2 linked regions of the Homo sapiens genome follow. The protein of the gene in region 2 purifies or fractionates together with the protein of the main gene of each other region. This does not show direct contact. Each region holds a gene or a part of one and is shown on either strand. Other genes may lie near its edges. The genes, in order: PLXDC2 and AKR1D1.

Region 1 (3,826 bases), on a different chromosome or scaffold from region 2:
ATTAGTGCAGATTCAGATACAATCATTTTTACATTTGCAGGCTCAGGTACGTTCAACAGAAGGTCACCGAGAAGTATGGGCTGGTTATTTTAGCATGACAGAATGCAGGCTTGGAATTTCTCCTTGACATGGCAGAAGAAATAGGAATGATGCCCAGAGGACTGGAATAAATTCAAAATGCTTGGTTTTCCAAGTTCTATTTTAATAAACTTCGGAAAATTAACCTTTCCCTGAAAGACACGTCCTTGGTTTGGCACACAGGGCTTTCCAAAACAGTGAGAAACGAACTGGCCATGTGCTGCACTCACACACATAGTCATTCTTTTTGCTTGGGGTTGACTAGGTTCATAGGGCCAGATTTTCCTCAGTGTCCTCTTGTAGCAGTGCCGCAGTGAGCTTTGTGATTCTGACAAAGGGTGCCATTATATCCACTTTGAAATGCATTACAAATATTCTGCATGCTGGTGCAACTGGCATAAAATCTGGAAAGCCACCGCCCCCCCCCCCTCCCCCGCCGCAAGAAGTGCCCAATTTCTTCTCTTTTCACACTTCAACATTTCAAATGACTACACACAGAATTACCAGAAACAGTAGTAAATTCCTGGCATTCGAAGTTCCCATGATCCCAGCTGGCATATAAAAAAGACTCTCTCCTTTTTTTCCCCTGAAAATAATGTACTCTCCAGGCACTGTTGAAATGCTTCAAATCAGGCAAATGAGAGATTTGTTTTGACCAATCAATGAAAAGACTTCCCCCTCTTCTCCGTGAGGGCCCCAAGACTGGGTTACGCCATACACAAGATGTCTGTTTCTAAAGAGACTTCACTGATTTCCCTAAAATGATTTTAACATTTCTTTGCAAGTGAAGCTCTGATGTTGCCTAATGTTATTTTCAGAGTAGCCTGCTGCAGGATGCCTAATTTGAGTTTTTATTTCCCTGCTATAAATGTGACAATCTGAGTATGTTTTCATTCAAACCACCTTGAACATGGTGGCTGAGGCTTCACCACAAATGTCCAGAAAATAGCACTGGAGTCTGTCTGAGTCCTGAGATGGTCAAATCTCAGAGAAATCCAGCTCTGGGCCCGGAAAGGAAAGTGCCATCTCTTAACCTTTCCTCAGGAAAATTATTTTATTGATTTTTTTGCCTTATTTTCATGCCTTTTAAGTCAAAGGAAGATAAATGGAAAGTCTCTTTTTGGTCATTCACTAATTCTCTAGGGCAAGTCACATAATTCTCTAGGACAAAGGCCTCCATGATGTTAGGATGAATGCCATAGAAGAGGTATGGGGGGTGATGGCTGCATTTTAGACTAATCATAGGCATATCCTTTGCTTTCTCTATGTCAGGGGTCTCAGCATTGCTTGCAGAATATGTGCCCCAGTGTCTGGATGTCTGAATGACCTAAATTTGAGCTGGTCATCAATGAGTATTTATTAGCACATTGCTCTTAAGAAGTTAATAACTCGGCCAGGCACGGTGGCTCAGGCCTGTAATTCCAGCACTTTGGGAGGCGGAGGTGGGCGGATCACCTGAGGTCGGGAGCTGGGGACCAGCCTGACCAGCATGGAGAAACCCCGTCTCTACTAAAAATACAAAATTAGCCGGCTGTAGTGGCATATGCCTGTAATCCCAGCTACTTGGGCGGCTGAGGCAGGAGAATCGCTTGAACCTGGGAGGCGGAGGTTGCAGTGAGACGAGATCACGCCATTGCACTCCAGCCTGGGTAACAAGAGCAAAACCCCATCTCAAACAACAACTAAAAGAAGTTAATAACTCTGCCTAATAGCACATTTAGATTTTTATTTTTTTTTCCATGAATCATCTCCATTCACTCACTCTTAGGTTTATACTTTCCCCTAAAATTCCCCCATGAAACTTCTAAAATTAGTTTCATGCTATGTATTTGTTTGATAGGCACAGAAGGTTTACAGCTGCATGGTCAGTAAGCGATACTTTGGTCATGAATGTATATATACATATATATTTGCAATGCTGAGAAAAAGAGAGACTGCTGTTAAAAATCAAAATTCTCGTGGAATGAAGAGAAGCCACTGAGATTTTTTTCAACCAGAATGAAAATAAATAAAATATCACTATCTGCCAAATCAAAAGCTTTTATGTTATTCCATTATGAAAGACATTTATTGAGTAATTTGCAAATGTTAATAAGCCTTAGAAACTAGGAAAAGCTGAGTACTAGTTTATGACTTACATTTAATTTTTTTTCCAGCCTTTTATCCTGGGTTTAAAGTAACACAGAATCTTTCAGTGTCAACAGTGAGCTGGAAATTAACCTATAATAACAAGTTTTGAGCATTTTGCTCCTCCAGGCAAAATTTGGTCACTCATAATAAATATATTATGAAGAAGCCAATGATGATGTATTCCATAAACTTGTTATGAAAAACTGACTCCAGAAATTATGTGACTTTACTTGAATAATTACCATTTTACTTCTCTACAATAATCATTGTGAGAGCAGTGGGCATTGGATGGTTGAAAAGTTATTCCAGACAATAATTAGGCAGATGTATTACAATTTAAGTTGAGGCTAGATCAACTTAATCAAAACCTTAAGAAGTAATACCATGTTATGATATGACAATGGTAGAACAGGAAATTATAGACACATTTGAGGCTGGAGTTTTCTGATTTCCCTGATTGTCTTATGTCTGGGATGGTCTAATAAATGACATAACCACCACACACACCTAAAGTGCAAATGCTTTTTTGATACACTGGTGTTTCTGAATACCTCAAAACAGTGATATTAATAATTCAAAACCCAATAGAAATATTGGGTCGAGAAATCAAACTTCAACTGTTGCATCTGGTCAGTAAGACTGCAGTGAACTAGAAAGTATTCTTAGGTCAGGGAGAATTTTGAGTAACTTTTTTTCTCACAGATAAAATTAACAGGTCTACAGCACAGACATGCAGTGATATATTATGTTTCAGACACATTCTTCAGGCAAACAGTTTCTAGTTCCCATTTTAAGTAGAATAGAAAATTGGAGTTGAAAATTGATAGAGTATTGTTGATCCTATCTACTTGTAAAGTCTGGTTTAGGGATGTTATTGTATTATAATGATCGGTTACATGCCTGGACTCTCACTACTGTATATCACAAGTTACTAGCACAGTCACTTGGTTCCAGTAGGTGTTCAATAAATATTTCAGTGAACTGAACAGTTAAATAAATGAACAAATAGGGAGATGAATCAAAGTGCTCTGTAAAATGTAAAATGCTTCACAAACATAAGGTAATAGGAGTATATAAAAGGTAACACCACAGACCTCGCATTATCTGCCCAAAAAACCTTATAAGGACAAAAATGTTGTAATAGTTTGAAGAGCAAATAAAAATTGCAATTATATATGTGGTCAGAAAATCAGCTATATAGATCATTCATTTTCAAATATATTTGGGAAGAAATAAAACAAAGGCAGAAAAATTTTAAATGGCCAAAATAAATTGTATTGCTAACTTAGATGGCCACAGATGGGGGCAGGGGTGGAGAGAGGAGAAATTGAAAACACCACAAAGACCCCGCAATGGCTAGAACTTGAAATCTCTGGATATTGCAACAATAGCAGCCTCCTTAAGTCAGCAAAAAGATAAAGATTGATCCAATGTTCTATATTACAGAACAGAGCAGATTGTCAATATAGCAAATAAAGTTACCGTTGAGTGGACTGCGCTGTCTAAGCTGCTTGGTTGGCCTTAAGTGCCGACAATTAAGAGATGAAGGCAATGAGAACTGAAACAAACATTTAAGTTCAAGACCCAGTTTACTGACACTGGGACTATTACTATATCT
Region 2 (3,826 bases):
GCTGAGCGAGAGAATAAATCTGAAATGTATTTCTAGTGATTTTATAGTCCTGGGCAGGATATAGAAAGCCTTGGGGACATATATTGTATTTTTTCCCCCTGCTACAGTTGGAAGTCATCACTATAGAGAAGATAAGAGGATACGAAAAATGAACAAACTGGCTACATAGATGATATTATAAGATTCATAGTCACAAATATCAAATAGCTGGGAAAAGGAGACACACATTTCAGCAACATTAGAAATATTTGTTTGGTTAATTAAATAACAACATGATTAATAGGACTTGGACAGTAATTGAGTCAAAAGGCCAGAAAAAAGCCTGTAAAATGAGATGTTATGAATGACAAGTGTGACAACCAAAGTACAGTGGGAAGGGGAGGTGAGGCGTGGTGTCCAGAAATTTACAGGGAAGAAAATAAACATCTACTTTCATTCTCAAGTATCTACATTATTATCATTATTATTATTAGAGACAGGGTCTCCGTCACCCAGGCTGGAGTGCAATGGCACGATTATGGCTCACTGCAGCCTCGGCTTCCCAGATTCAAGTGATTCTTCCACCTCAGCCTCCCGAGTAAGTGGGACTACAGGCGTGTGCCACCATGCCTGGCATACATTTTTGTAGAGATGGGGTTTTGCCATGTTGCCCATGCTGGTCTCAAACTCTTGGGCTCAAGTGATCCTCCTGCCTTGGCCTCCCTCTACATATTATTAATATATGAAGCTTAATACTAGATGGTAAATAGAATCTCAGAAACATCACTGAGATTTTATGGGCTGGAACTGATCATTTAAATGAAGAGCTAAAGTACACAATGAAGGGAGCCCCAGACAAATGCGTATTAAAGTAGGTGCTTGTATTTTTGAAGATTAACCCAAAAAATGAAGTACAGAGGAGAGCATTTAGGATAAAGAAAGTACAGCTGGGGATGGTGGCTCACACCTGTAATCCCAGCACTTTCGGAGGCCCAGGCGGGGCAGATCACCTGAGGTCAGGAGTTCAAGACCAGCCTGGCCAACATGGTGAAACCCCATTTCTACTAAAAAATACAAAATGTAGCCAGGCGTGGTGGTAGACACCTGTAATCCCAGCTACTTGGGAGGCTGAGGCAGGGGAATCTCTTGAACCTGGGAGGCAGAGGTTGCAGTGAGCTGAGATCATGCCACTGCACTCCAGCCTGAGTGACAGAGCAAGACTCTGTCTCAAAAAAAAAAAAAAAAGGAAAGAAAAGAAAAAGAAAGAAAGTGGCAAAGGCAAGGGCTAAGGTAGGAGTGTAGTCCACCATGGTGCTGTATATTTGGATGATGACTCATTTAATAAGGATTATGGCACAGAAGCAAGTTATAGTAGTGAAAATCTTCAATTATTCAGCTATCACCAGGGAGTCTCTTCTAAAAGCTGGATATTTACTTACTGGATATCTACTATTTACTTATTTATTTATATGTTTATATTTATATACTTGCTGAAAAATATTGTCCCTCAGAAGGCAGAAGCAGCAGTGAGATGTATTACTATTTTGTACTTAATTCTCATCAGTATGGAGGAACTAGTTGGGACTGTGGACATGAGGACCACACTTTGTAATTCTTTTTTTTTTTTTTTTTTTTTTGAGACGGAGTCTCACTCTGTCACCAGGCTGGAGTGCAGTGGCATGATCTCAGCTCACTGCTACCTCTGCCTCCCGGGTTCAAGCGATTCTCCTACCTCAGCCTTCCGAGCAGCTGGGACTGCAGGTGTGTGCCACCAAGCCCAGCTAATTTTTGTATTTTCAGTAGAGACGGGGTTTCACCATGTTGGCCAGGATGGTCTCGATCTCTTGACCTTGTGATCTGCCCGCCTCAGCCTCCCAAAGTGTTGGGATTACAGGCGTGAGCCACTGCACCCGGCCCACACTTTGTAATTCTTAAATGTGGCACAAAAAAATTCTACATAAATTGTGACACATTTTTTAGGAAAACCAGTTTTGAAAAAAATCGGAAAGATCAAATAGGATACCACATAAATGATATGATAGGAGAATCTAAAATATAAAAATTTGATTCCACAATTAAAGACAATCTCACTGAACAGTAAAACAAAAAATCTGGTTTCCTAAAATGGCTGACAGCATCTCCTTCTACTTAAGAAAATTAAAAATGCTGGATTATGCTGGCGCAGTGGCACACACCTGTAATCCCAGCGCTTTGGGAGGCTGAGGTAGGAGGATCGCTTGAGCCCAGGAGTTTGAGAACAGCCTGGGCAACATGGCAAAACCCCATCTCTATAAAAAATACAGAAATTAGCCGGGTCTGGTGACTCGCTTGAGCCTGGGAGGCAGAATTTGCAGGGAGCCGTAATCATGCCACTGCGCTTCAGCCTGGGTGTTGGAGCAAGACCCTGTCTCAAAAAAAGAAAAAAAAAAAAAAAAGCTAGATTAAAACTTTTGAAAAGATTACCATAAAAGTACTGAAAAGACAGTAGGCATTTATTAATTCAAACTACATTTTATGGGAAAGTCTGAATGCAGAAATGAGAGGTGTAGGAGATGAAAAAGGAAAGTAAAAAAACTCCCTAACAGGCTATGGCCACCTCCAGTCCCTGGGAGAATTCATAACCTATGTAGCCGGAGTCTGCTGACCAGTTTCACATCGTCACTGGGTAGCAATGCCTCCAGGGAACCTGGAGCAAACACACACAAATGTTGTCTGAAAGAAAATACTTGTTTTTCACCCTTGATGCTCGCTCACAAATACTTTTTTAAAAGTAGTATTAACCTGCACACAGCTGAAGAATTCAGGTACCCCAGAAAACAAAGTTCCATAAAGGAAGACTGGTAGAAACAACTGAGAGCCTAAACAGAACCATAGATCCTAATATTGGAACTGTCATCAGAGTGAAATTGGACCTGTATCTTACACCATACACAAAAAGTCAACTCAAAATGGATTAAAGATTTTTAAGACCAGAAACTGTAAAGCTCCTAGAAGGAAACATAAGGGAAAAAGCATCATGACATTGGGATAGGTGATGATTTCTTGGATATGACACCAAAAGCATAAGAAACAAAAGCAAAAATAGGTTGTTGGTACTACATCAAGCTAAAAAGCCTCTGCACAGAAAAGGAAACACTCAACAGAGTTAAAAGGCAACTTATGGAATAGAAGAAAATATTTGCAAACCGTATATCTCACAAGGGGTTAATATCCAAGATATAATTAAAAGGAACTTCTACAACTCAATAGCAAAGAAGCAAAAACAAACAAAACAAAACAAAACAAAAAACCCCAAAGAAAAACCTAACCTGATTAAAAAGTTGACAAAGGACTTGAGTAGACATTTCTCCAAAGAAGACATACAAATGGCCAATAGGTATATAAATATCAATATCACTATTCATCTGGGAAATGCAAATCAAAACTACAATGAAATAACACCTCACACCCATTAGGATGACTATTATCAAAAAACTGAAAGGTAACAATTATTGGTGAGGATGTAGAGAAATTAGAACTCTTGTACACTGTTGGTGAAAATGTAAAATGGTGCAGCTACTGTGGAAAACAGTATGGAGGTTCCTAAAAAAATTAAAGATATATTAGAACATGTTGGTCAAGAAAAACAATTAAAAATAGAACTACCATATGATCCAGCAATCCTACTTCAGGGTATATATCCAAAGGAAATAAAATCACTATCTTGAGGAAATATTTGCACTTCCATGTTCACTGTAGCATTATTCACAATAGCTAAGATATGGAAACAACCTAAATGTTCACTGACAGATGAGCAGGTAAAGAAAATGTGGTACATAGACAATGTAATATTATTCAGCCTCAAAAA

What was found.
Region 1: the proteins of AKR1D1 (region 2) and PLXDC2 purify together in Homo sapiens (affinity purification with mass spectrometry; 2 studies listed by BioGRID and IntAct, with this or other methods). This does not show direct contact.

Annotation. Positions count from the first base shown.
Region 1 is NC_000010.11:20,284,667-20,288,492, reverse strand, and holds part of PLXDC2 (plexin domain-containing protein 2 isoform 1 precursor), read right to left. Parts: 3' UTR 1-3,826. UniProt on the Homo sapiens protein: May play a role in tumor angiogenesis.
Region 2 is NC_000007.14:138,082,845-138,086,670, reverse strand, and holds part of AKR1D1 (aldo-keto reductase family 1 member D1), read right to left. Parts: intron 1-3,826.